2 separate regions of the Homo sapiens genome follow, and region 1 is linked to region 2. A link means that fine-mapping ties the variant in region 2 to the expression of a gene that starts in the linked region. Tissue or cell type: pancreas. Region 2 holds a variant in brackets; the other region holds the start of a gene. All regions are shown on one strand. Distances are from middle to middle.

What was found. PIP is the estimated chance that this variant, and not a neighbour inherited with it, causes the effect.
Region 1: it holds the start of MERTK, and the variant in region 2 is fine-mapped to the expression of MERTK in pancreas (GTEx, PIP 0.95).

Annotation. Positions count from the first base shown.
Region 1 is chr2:111,896,289-111,902,450 of GRCh38, reverse strand. It overlaps MERTK (MER proto-oncogene, tyrosine kinase), which reads right to left and starts at 3,844. Exons shown (of 19, transcript NM_006343.3): 1 at 3,655-3,844. The coding sequence starts at 3,715. RefSeq lists an enhancer at 4,376-4,705.
Region 2 is chr2:111,978,616-111,984,777 of GRCh38, reverse strand. MERTK (MER proto-oncogene, tyrosine kinase) reads right to left here. Exons shown (of 19, transcript NM_006343.3): 8 at 1,785-1,936. Among named protein-coding and RNA genes, the nearest start is that of TMEM87B, 74 kb to the left of the region's middle. The variant TGTGTGTGTAC/C (reference allele first, on the strand shown) is at 3,031.

The DNA.
Region 1 (6,162 bases), 82 kb after region 2:
GAACAGGAAGCCACTGGAAGATTTTCAAATGGAAAATACAATCAGATTCGTTTCCAAAATCTCATTCTGGCTATTATATGGAAAGCGACTGTTTCACATGTGTGTTCAAGGTCCCAGCTCAGTTTTTCTACCCAGCAGCATGTTCCCAATTCACAGGCATAAAAAGATTGAACCTCTTCTTGACCAATGCTGACTAGTAACTCACTGGCCCTTCTACAATTATCTGGAAATTATTTCAAAAATTAAGATTTAAAAATATAATTATTGGCTGGGTGTGGTGGCTCATGCCTGTAATCCCAGCACTTTGGGAGGCCAAGGCAGGCAGATCACCTGAGGTTGGGAGTTCGAGACCAACCTAACCAACACGGAGAAACCCTGTCTCTACCAAAAATACAAAATTAGCCAGGCGTGGTGGTGCATGCCTGTAATCCCAGCTACTCAGGAGGCTGAGGCAGGAGAACTGCTTGAACCCGGGAGGCGGGAAGTTGCGGTGAGCCGAGATTGTGCCATTGCACTCTAGCCTGGACAGCAAGAGTGAAACTCTATCTCAAAAACAAAAAAACATAATTATTGTTAATTTTTTAAAAATTGTATTCAGCTGTGCATGGTGGCTCATGCCTATAATCCCCACACTCTGAGAGGCTAAGGTGGGAAGATCGCTTGAGCCCAGGAGTTCAAGACCAGCCTGGGCAACATAGTGAGATCCTGTCTCTACAAAAAATAAAAAATTAGCCAGGCATGGTGGTATGTGCCTGTGGTCATAGCTACTTGGGAGGCTGAGGTGGGAGGATCACTTGAGCCCGGAAGGTTGAGGTTGCAGTGAGCCGTGATGGTGCCACTGCACTCTAGCCTGGGTGGCAGAATGAGAACCTGCCAAAAAAAAAAAAAAAAGAAAGAAAGAAAAGAAAAGAATTCCACTCAGCACTTTAATGGGTCAGAATAATTTTCTAAAAGTATTCATTTTTAAAATATGCACGATGTACTTTCAAAAAGCATTTGAAGCCTTTGGAATAAAGCCCACAAGCAACAGAACAACTTAAAAGTTCCCTCTGGGAAGATGTTTACAATATACTGGAATACATGTTACAATATCAGTTTGGAAAAGAAATATTAACATTAAAGAATCTTAAAAGCCTAATTTACTCTAAGGGTTGAGTTTAGCTGCACACACAGCCTCGTCATGAGCTAAGTCCTCATAATGCATTCATTTTTATCCACATTTATATTTATCTTGCTCCATCCTCTCCCTGGCCCTTCAGAGAGCCACCGCTTGCCTCATTTTGCTGCTCAATGGCACCCCCATCAGAGACTGAGCAGAAAGGAAAGACTGGAAAGCCTCGAAATGCTCCTGGTTTGGCAGTTCCAGTTCTGTGTGTGCATGTCTTTGTGAGACGTGTAGTGTGTATGTGTGTTGGGGGGCAGAGGGGATTTCCTGGGTTAAAGTGATGCTTAAATTTTATTTACCCATTCTTCTATACTGCTAACAGTGTAGAATCTACACACATATTCTCATTGTCTCTCTCTCTGTCTCCCCTGTGTGGTCAGCAAAGCACTCAGACCCACAATGTGTAATAGGAAAATCTTAAAATTAGATGAAGAGTCTAATTTCCATGTTTAATTTCTTCATACAGCACTCCTTTGTGCTGTAATTCTGCCAGTGAGAATCCCATTCTTTAAGCTTTTCACAAGGTGAGATGTAAAACTGTCACACATCTCATAGGTAAAGTTCAAAACCAAAAGCAAAAAGTGCAAGAACGATTGGTGAAACTTTTCATTCTTCCAGCTGGGTGGATTTTAAAAGGCCTTTTTATGATTGTCTGATTAAAGTTGATTGTCAGCTACAAAAATTTGTTATTACAGCCTTTTAAAATTTTAGAAAAACAAAAGCACTCCAATTTTTAAGTATTTAACACAAAACTATTGTTCCCATTACTTTCTCCATAGTTCTCACCACATTCACTACCTCCAAGACTATTCACGGCCAGTCCTCACTAGTAGCAACAAATAACAGATTTGCAGCAGATTATGAAAAATGGGGCTGGCAGAAATGCTGAGGAATTTTTGAAGGTTTGGTGGAGGGAGGGGCAGTGGAGAACAGAACTGCTTTAGTTCTTTGCCTGGCTCTTAAAGTTTGTTTCAAATTGCTATGTTGCCCCAAATTATAAATTGCTTATGTAATTTAACGTGCAAAAAGTGGGTGCACTGTTTAAGAATTTTTCATTTGAGTAAATGAGCTTTCAAAGGAAAATCTCAAAGGAAAAACTTTTAAGTAACTTACTTGACTATAAACTGAGCTTTCCAGGTATTCCTAAAAAACATCTTTGACTGTAATAGGTGAAGGCTAGTCAAGTGCATTCTCGATCAAAAGAGAGAAAATCTACATGCTGAATGGAAATAGAAACCTTTTAGCTGAGAGAAAATACTTGGAATGTGTTTATTTAGCATTTTTCCCCTTTCTTTTTCTTTTGGGTAAAGCCTGGTAAGTTTATTCCAGCCTCCTCAAGAAGTGCATCAGCGATCAAACTTGAAATCTGTTCATCACTCACTCCCCAAATAAGCTGTTCAAGCAGAATGAAACCGGCCTTCCTTGCCTCCACGTATCAGTCCAGCATCTTGTATTAAAATGCCTGGAACAAGCCGGGCGCGGTGGCTCACGACTGTAATCCCAGAACTTTGGGAGGCCAAGGAGAGCAGATCACGAGGTCAAGAGATCGAGACCATCCTGGCCAACATGGTGAAACCCCGTCTCTACTAAAAATACAAAAATTAGCCGGACGTGGTAGCGCGCGTCTATAGTCTCAGCTACTCGGGAGGCTGAGGCAGGAGAATCGCTTGAACCCGGGAGGCGGAGCCTGCAGTGAGCCGAGATCGCGCCGCGGCACTCCAGCCTGGGCGACAGGGCGAGACTCGGTCTCAAATTAAAAAAAAAAAAGCCTGTAACAACACTTCGCTGAATCCAGATAAACGTAAACGCTGCCGAGCACTGTAAGTTCTGTTCTGCCATAACAGGAGTGAAAAGAACGCTCCCCTTTTCCCACACTCTCTGGGTGCCCCTAAAAAGGGATACTAATAATGCCCGTAAGGGCCCATTGGGAGCAGCCAGGACTGCCGTCCCCCCCTGGCCCGTCGCTCGGCCTCAGTCTATCGCGGCTCCCGGACTGCGGCTCCGACTCCCGCAGCCCGTTCGTTCGCCCCGCGCCGGTCCCTCGGGAGACCGGATCTGTGGCCCCCGGGACTCCGGCCAGAGCGGGGCCCCACCATGCAACTCTAGTGGAAAGTTCTCGTCGCATCCCAGACCAGACCTGCTACCTACGTTCCACTCGTCGGAACTTCAGGACTTGCAGCGCGCCCGGCCGAGCTCGATTTCCTCCTCTGCGGTGAAGAGGGGAGCCTGCAACGCCGACCCCGACCCGGCTTCACCACGATGCGCACCCGCAAGCCAGGCTGGGTGCCCTCGGGACGCTTGAGGCGCCGCGGTCAGTGGACGGTAGGTTCGCCTACGCCCCCTCCTCTGGCACCGCAGTGGGTGGAGGGTGTTTGCAAACTTGTCCAGCAGCCAGGCGCGCCCCTGTGGACGCGCTCCCTCCCCAGAGGCCCCTGCTTCCTCCTGGGAGCCCCCACCCCCTCGCCTGGCCCCCAGCCGGGCGCACTCACCTCTACGCCAGAGCGCGGGGAGGAAGAGGCCCAGCAGCAGCGGCAGCGGGGCCGGCCCCATCCCGGGGCTGCGGATCTGTAATTTCTCTCCGGACGGATGGACAGATGGACGTCCCGAACCTGTCCTGTCGCCGGCCAAGCGCGCCAGCGAAGCTCCCTGTCCGGGCGGCCCGGGCAGTGAGTGCCGAGTGGCGGAGCCAAGCGGCCGGCGGGAGGTGCCGAGGGCTGGAAGGGGCGGGCCGGGGGCCGAGCCGAGGCCGGCCGGGGCTGGAGGAGAGGAGCGGGCAGGGGGGCGAGTCCCGGCGGGCCCAGCAGGTTGGGGTGGGAGGGGGCGGGAGGACGAGGGGGAGGAGGGGCGTAAAGGGGAAAGGGAGGGGGTTGGAGAGAAGGGGCGGGCCGAAGGCCGCCGCTGGGCAGACGGCGGGGAAGGGGGCGGAGAGGAAGGGGAGGGGGCTGAGAGACCCGGAGGGAGCCGGAAAGAGAAGTGAAGGGGAGGGGTGGACTGGAGGTCCACAGCGGAAGGCTCTGGCCGCTGCGCGGGTCCGGGGCCCCACACGTGTGGGTGGGAGATGGGGAAGGACAGAAGGTGGGAGAGGAGTAGAGGATGCCCGAGGCAGCCCCCAGACCCAAGAGGAGGGTCCAGAGGCGCCCCCGCATTCCGGGCTTGGCTGACACAGAAAACCCTGGCCGCGCCGCTCCCAGAGGCCAAGGCCAGGGCGGCAGCGCTCCCTGCCGAGCGCTCCTCCACATCCATTCCGCTCGCCGCCGAGCGCCGCCTGGGTACCCGGCCCGAGGTGCGCGACACGGCCCTGGCGGCGAGGAGCTCACCTCCCCAGGGGGAGGGGTTCCTGGGAAAGGACGCTTTGCCGTGGCTCCGTGACGAGCCAGAGAGAGGTGACACTCAAGGAGGGAGATGAACGTGAATGACAAAGTGCAGAGCAGGAGTGGGGAGAGGGGGAACCACAGCACGTCACTCTCATGGGCCTCCACAAGGTGTGCAGGGTCCAAGAGGCAGTAGCAGAGAGTGAGTCGTAAGAGAAATGTAACTACTTACGCTAATAATGGCAACAGTAACTTAATTTATATACGTAGTTTCTTAAAGGTAACACTTTTAGAATGAATGTATTTTAATGTGGTCCCTTTAACAACATAACATAAGCCAAATCATGTCCCTCTCCTCAAATCTCCCTAAACCTATCAGTGGTTCCTGCTGTCTCTGCGTACGTAAGCCAAGGTTCTGCAGTGGTCTACGAGGTTCTACGTGACCTGGTCCCCTTTCCTCTTTGGCCTCATCTCCTTACGCCTCTTCAATTTACGTTGGTCTCGTCAAGCGGTCCCTTGACCCCTACACTGGCTGGACACTTCCCGTAGATTTGGCTACGGGAAGGAGACAGGCAGCCCAGATGGGTTTAGACAGGTTATTACTTACACCGACAGCAAAAGCAAAATCAGTGTGGTGTCAGCTCCATGCATCCTTAGGCCTACAAGATAACACCAAACTGGAAGGGTCAGTGTTATCCTATGGGTCTACATAATTTAACAAAAATAAATAAATAAATAAATAAATAAATAAGACAACATGAGCCCTGCCGCTGAGTAGCCAAGTCTAAATTACACCAAGCAGTTTTATAGACTTCACAGGAGCCTGCCGCTGTATGCTTGGAGGGAAGCGGGCTGGGCGGTGGAGGGAGGGATATGGAAAGTCCTGCAGTCAACTGAAACGTTGGAGAAGGAAGAGAAATGGCCTTGCAGCAGTCTCCCATGGGGTAGGGATAGGAAACTGCCTACCAGTGGCTCCTCACCAGGCTTACCCATCCCTGCTTTAGGGGAAATCACAGGGCAGTCCAACAAGACTTGGGTCAGACCGTGGTCATACCTTGCCTACATGGCCTCGAGAGATGTGCAAGATTGCCAAGGACACCTCGGCAGAGCTGTTCTCCTGCAATTTCCTTGCTATTGCTCACATATACCAAGCACTCCTCCGCCCAAAGGTTTGCACTGGCTGTTCTCTCTGCCTGAAATGCTCTTCCCCTAGACACACAGCTTCCCAGTTGGCTCTCCTCCAAGTCAGCTCAAATCTCACTTTCTTGTTGAGGCCTGCCTTGTACAATACTCTTCAGCTATCTACCGGTGTTTGATATACCACCCCAAACATAGTGGGAGTAAAATGTCAGCCATTTTATTAGATTCCTGAATTCTGTGGATCGGAGGTTTGGACAGAGCACAGGGGAAATAGGTTGTCCTTGCTCCTCCATATCTGCCTGGGACCTTAGGCTCAAATGGTTGGGGATTAGAATCATGTAAAGTAAATTATAACCTGCAGGCCTATGGCTTCTTTTTGCAAATAATCGTTATCGAAACACAGTCATTCATGTTGGTAATTGTGACAGAGATTATGTGGCCCACAAAGCCATGCAATCTGGCCCTTTAGATAAAAAGTTGGCTAACCCCGATCTCAAGGCTCATTCACTCACATAGCTGCCATCTGCACTGGGATGACTTGGGCAC
Region 2 (6,162 bases):
GTGGAAAGAAGGCAGGTTAGAAGGTTACTTATATCAGCAAACTCAATGTAATTATTCATGAAAGAAGAATCATCTAGGTCATCATCATGATCTGTAAGTCTCAAGTTGTGCTCCTGAGCTCATGCTTATCATTGGCTCCCCTGCTATCAACAAATTTCTACCTGCCTTGGCTTCACTTTCAGGGCCCTGCATTTTAGGGTCAGAACTCCTCAATCCAGCTTCATCTCACACCTCGCTCTCACAAAAGCGTTATGTTCCAGACCTTCAAGTGAGTCAGAATTTAAAGCTGCCACGTTGTGCCTTCTCTCATGTTATCTTTTCCCATCTGAGACTCCTCAAATTTCATCTGTCAAAATTACTCTAAGCTGCGATGGTTAATATTATGTGTCAACTTGACTGGGTGACAGAGGTGCCCAGCTATGTGGCTCAACATGATTTCTGGGTGTGTCTGTGAAGGTGTTTCCAGTGAGATTATTATTTGAAACAGGGGACTCATAATGCAGACTGCCCTCTTCAGTGTGGCTGGGCCTCATTCAATCCATGGAGGGCCTGACAAGAACAAAAGGTAAAGAAAGGAGGAATTCTCCCCTTTTCTTCTGCCTGAATGCTTGAGCTGAGACATCAGTACTCTCCTATCCTTGGACTGAGATCTACACCACTGCCCCTGTTTCTCAGGCCTTCAGACTCTGACTAAATTACACCACTGGCTCCTGGGTCTCCAGCTTCCAGATGGCAGATCGTGAGACTTCTCAGCCTCTGTAATTGCATGAGTCAATTTCTTATCATAAATCTCCTTCTATACATACATGTTCAATTAGCTGTTTCTCTAAAGAATCTTGACTAACACACAAGCCCAATTCAAGTACCACCTTTTCTGGGAGAGGCAGTCTGCCACAGGCTCCAAGCATCTTTGTTCATCCTTGCTGAGTGTGACAAACTGCAAGGCCTAACCATCCCCAACCCCGAGCCATGCTGGGGCTAGTCACGTGGGCAGTGAAGTAGGTCAAGGTGGCCACAGCATGACGACCGTGCAACTGCACAGAGGATCAGCTTGTTTGCTGTTCACTACACAGGGTGCTGAGCCCTTGACCCTAGTACCCTCAGGTGCACAATCCACCAAGTGGGTACATCACATTGCCCAATGGGACTTGGTGGAGCAGGGAACCTGTGCCACCTGGCTGATGCACCTGGTTGTGTTATGTAGTGTCAGACTGCATGTCCTGATCCAGTAATTCTGATGTCTAATTTCGGCTTGCCCGCAGCTGTGCCAGGCTGGCCAGAGAGCTTGCTCGGTCTCCTCCTTTGGTGTCTGCTTACTTCTTGCCATTCTCTATGAGGATGAGGTTATTCCCTTATCTTCTTCTTTTGCAAAGTCCCATGAAATTTCCAAAAGGCCATGAATTGCTGGACTGCTAAGCCCTGTAGCTCCCTGACCTAATGCTACAACTTGGGTATTCCACACTGTCATCCTATAAGAGCCTAAATTCCATGAGGGCAAAAGTCAGGTGATAACAGAGGATGAATTCTATGTCTATCTCATGAATAAGTAAAAGAATGAATGAATGAATGAGTAAGTGAGGAAAGTCCCAAAAGATACCTTAGAATTTTGTAACTGTTCAGTCACCTCTAATATTTACTATATTCTTTATGTTCCCCTGAAAGGTGCCTTGCCTAACTCAATCACACCAGGTCTTTTCAAAACCAAATGAAAGCTTCTAAAACTGAAGTAAACCAGCAAGTTGAAAGGAGATGACTAATCGTGCTCTTCTAGGGTTTAGACTTACGGAAATCCCTGCACTCTGCCACACGTGGGATATCCGGTAGCCCACCAGTTCTCCATCCTGCTGCTTAGTCGGAGGCTTCATCCATCTGATGTCCACATTATCACTAGATTCATTCAGAAACACAGTGACATTTAAAGGTGCTACTGATGGGGCTACAAAAGAAAAAAGGAGAGAAGAATGAAGAACCACAAAGCACACACAGATGTATTCTCATCTGGGTTTTCAAGTGTTTGGTTTTCAAATGCTCTATGAAAAGCACTCAAATGAGACCAAGACTTATAGCACATTTTCACCTTTTCAACTAAGATTTTCACTGAGATATCAGTGAGTTTTAAATAAGTGAGCCCTTTTAGGTTACTGAAGCCTAGAAATTCATTTCTTAAGTTGAAAATATCAGCCAGAACATAGTGAGACCCTTTCTACAAAACAAAACAAAAAACTAAAAAATTAGCTGACTACTTGGTGCACATCTGTAGTTCCAGTCCCTCAGGAGACAGGCAGGAGGATTCCTTGAGCCCAGGAGATTGAGGCTACAGTGAGACATGATCATACCACTGCACTTCAGCCTGGGCAGAAAAAGCAAGCAAGGAAGAAAAGAAGGAAAGAAAGAGAAAGAGAAAGAAAAGAAGAAAATGTTGGCCAGGTATGGTGGCTCATGCCTATAATCCCAGCACTTTGGGAGGCCAGAGGGAGAGGATTGCTTGAGGTCAGGAGTTTGAGACCAGCCTGGACAACATAGTGAGACTCCAATCACCACTAAAAATAAAAAATTAGCTGGGTGTGATGGCACAGGTGTGTAGTCCCAGCTACTTGAGTGGCTGAGGAAAGATCACTTGACCCTGGAAAGTCAAGGCCACAGTGAGCCGTAATTGCACCACTGCACTCTAGCCTGGGTGACAGGGCAAGACCCTATCTCAAAAGAAAAAAAAAAAAAGGAAATTTCATGAGCACCTAAAGTAAAATAGCAAAGAAGAAGAAGGCAGGGAAGGTAGGGTGGGTGGTGCTCTGGACTCCTGGGGAAGTGAAGCAGACACAACTTGAACAATGTTCTCCAGCATAAACCTGTGGGGCAGAAAGTTAACATGGCCAGCTAGAGATCAGCTTGGTGGCATTTGAGATGCACAAGGTAGGAAACACTGCTGAGCTCAGAATGCAGCCACCATTTTAAAGTCCAGAGGCAAGTTACTGACAGTCTGAACAGAGCTAATCTGTCAACACATTTAAAAAGTGTGTGTGTGTGTGTGTG[TGTGTGTGTAC/C]ACGAGTGTACGTGTATAAAATAATTTGGGAAACAAGTCAAGATCATTACTACAGTCTTTTTTGGGAGAGAATAACTTAACTATATCTATTAAAATTGAAAATAATATGCTCTCTGACCAAATATTTTATTTCCAGGAATTTAATCTGTAGGTGATGTTATATTCATTGCAGCATAATAGTGACAAATAGAAATAAATGCAATGCTTGGTCAATAATTATGATATAATCTGGGAGATGGAGGTTGCAGTGAGTCAAGATCATGCCACTGCACTTCAGCCTGGGCAACAGAGTGAGACTCTGTCTCAAATAATAATAATAATACAAATTTTGATACATTTTCCAATGGAATACTTACTACCTCGTCACTGGAAAGAATTAGGTCATGTGTATTGATATAAAAAAATCCAATGGGGGAAAAATCAGATTGTAAAAAGTATATAGATCCATTTTAGAAATTAAAACAATAAACCTTCTATATCTAGAAAGAATAATAACAATTAGAATAATATACACCAAACTGTTGCCTGTAGTTGAATGAGGGGAGGTTAAATTCTATATTTCAGATATGTGTGAAAGGATACTATAACCCTCTTTTTCTCTGCTGATTCCAGAAACAGTAATCATGAAGTTAAAATGAATTTCAGCTTAGAAAACATCACACAACTAAAGCTGCCTATGAAATCAGTCGCACACTTTCAAACCTGTTGTAGAATTTGTGGATAAATATGGCCAACACAACATGTCTGTATGTCTGCCTCCTCCCAAAACCCCTCTATGATGGCAATAAAGAATTTAAAAAGATATAAACTCACAAGGCAAAGAGGAGTCAACAGTAGAAGAGAGATTTCAACACATATTTGAAAGCTGAAAAAGAGATGAAGAAGGTATAATTAACTCAGCAAGCCAATATTCTCCCAAAGAATCACAGAGCAGCTCAGAAGCTGTGGGCCCAGGTAGTAAAATGGGGACTAAAACTGGAAAGAATGATTGGAAGTCTGATTAACAAATAGTTGTGTCTCTGCCGGGCGCAGTGGGTCACGCCTGTAATCCCAGCATTTTGGGAGGCCGAGGCGGGTGGGTCACGAGGTCAGGAGATCGAGACCATCCTGGCCAACACGGTGAAACCCCGTCTCTACTAAAAATACAAAAAATTAGCCGGGCGTGGTGGCGGGCGCCTGTAGTCCCAGCTACTCAGGAGGCTGAGGCAGGAGAATGGCATGAACCCGGGAGGCAGAGCTTGCAGTGAGCCGAGATTGTGCCACTGCAGTCCGGCCTGGGCGAAAGAGCGAGACTCCGTCTCAAAAAAAAAAAAAAAAAAAAAAAAGAAATAGTTGCGTCTCAAAGTCTGTCTTCTCCATGCCTACACACCTGGCAAGTATGCCCTCAAATATCCATAGGACACAGGGTGATTTATTCTCTGAAGCAGAAAGCCACTAAACTTAGGGCACCTGTAGAATGGAGGCATGATAAGGAGCCAGGCTGAAAACTGGGAAAATAAGTGAAAGTTTATATACTAAATAACAAGGACTCTACCTTCCCCTCCTCCCCCACTTGGCTACTAGAATATCAGCAGCCACGTTTAATTCCTGGAGCAGGACACTTCTTTTCTAGAGGAAGTGAGCGGCTACAGAGGAAAGAAACCAATTTTGACAGTTGGGGGGTATCGTATCTAGATCAAAACACTTAGGTCACTGTCCAATCACCTATAGTGAAGCCTACAAGCTCTGCCCATACCCACAGAGTTCCAATCAAATCAATGATTCTTCACTCTTCCATAGGAGCAGACAGCAGAAATTAGCAGAGGTCTGGCGAAGCCTCCCCACTGAATATCAGGGACCAAAAAAAACCACACAGAACAGAGGGCTTAGAGGAGACAAAGCTAGTGTAGGGAACTAGGGAGACTAAAGACAAACAAACAAAAAATAATTGAGATATCCAGAAAAGACTCTTATGATTGAGAACCAGAAAAAAATTTTCAATGAAAAAAACTTGAAATTAGCAACATGATAAGTAAAATAAAACATTTAATAGAAGAATTGGAAGATAAATCAAGTAAATCTCCAAGAAGGTAGAATAAAAAGGCAAAGAAAATAGGCCAATTTGAAAAAAGAAAATTGAGGAAGCAATCGAAGAGGTCTAATTAACAATCGTCTAACACAATTCCTGGAAAAAACAGAGAGTGGAACATTTCCAAAGGAAAAAAAAAAGTTTAAGGACCAAAAGACTTGCATTTCCAGATCAAAGGGGCCACTGAATGCCCTTGATGACCAAAACAAATTGCACATCACAGCTTATCACAGAACCAGGATTAAAGAGAAAAGATATTTTAAAAACTAAAACTGAAAAACAGTTCACATAGAAAACTTAAGTATCAGAATTTTCCACAGCAACCCATGAAGCTAAAAAATGATACAAAAACGCCTTTAAACTTCTGAGGGAAAATAATTTCAACCTAAATTTCTATATTTGGAAAAATTACTAAGCCAGTATTACATAAGGATATGCAAGTTCCCACAATCTTTACTTTTTATGTATACATTTTGTGGAAGCTAATTGAGAATGGGCTCCATAAAAACGAGGGCATAAACTAAGAAAGGCAAATACCCAGGAGAAGGCACCAGAATCCTTAGGATGCCTCTAAAGGAAAATAGAAAAAGAACCACACGAAACAGTTAAAGGTAATGGTATCCAGGCTTCACACGGGGGAAGAATAGTGCCTGTTCCCATCAATCAGACTGGAAAATCTAATGATTCAAGAAGCACTGAGTAGGGCACACAGAATGGTCTTGTGTCAGCAGTGGGTAATAACCGACCTGAGACTGAGCCCTTATCAGGTTCTGCCTAATAAATCTTAAAAGCAAGACCCTACAGGATTAAACGGTTTCCCACTAGCTTAACTGTGTCTCAAAACAAAGCTCACTATTTACAGAAATAGAAGAATATCTAGCATCCAACACTGTAAAATTCTCAATGTCTGTAATCCAATCAAACATTATCAGGCGTGCAAAGAACCTGAAAAATACTACCTAGAGTGGAAACATAAATGAATCAGTTGAAACCACCCACAGATAACATAGATGTTAGGATAGCAAACAAAGACATTGAAACAGTTATGAAAAGG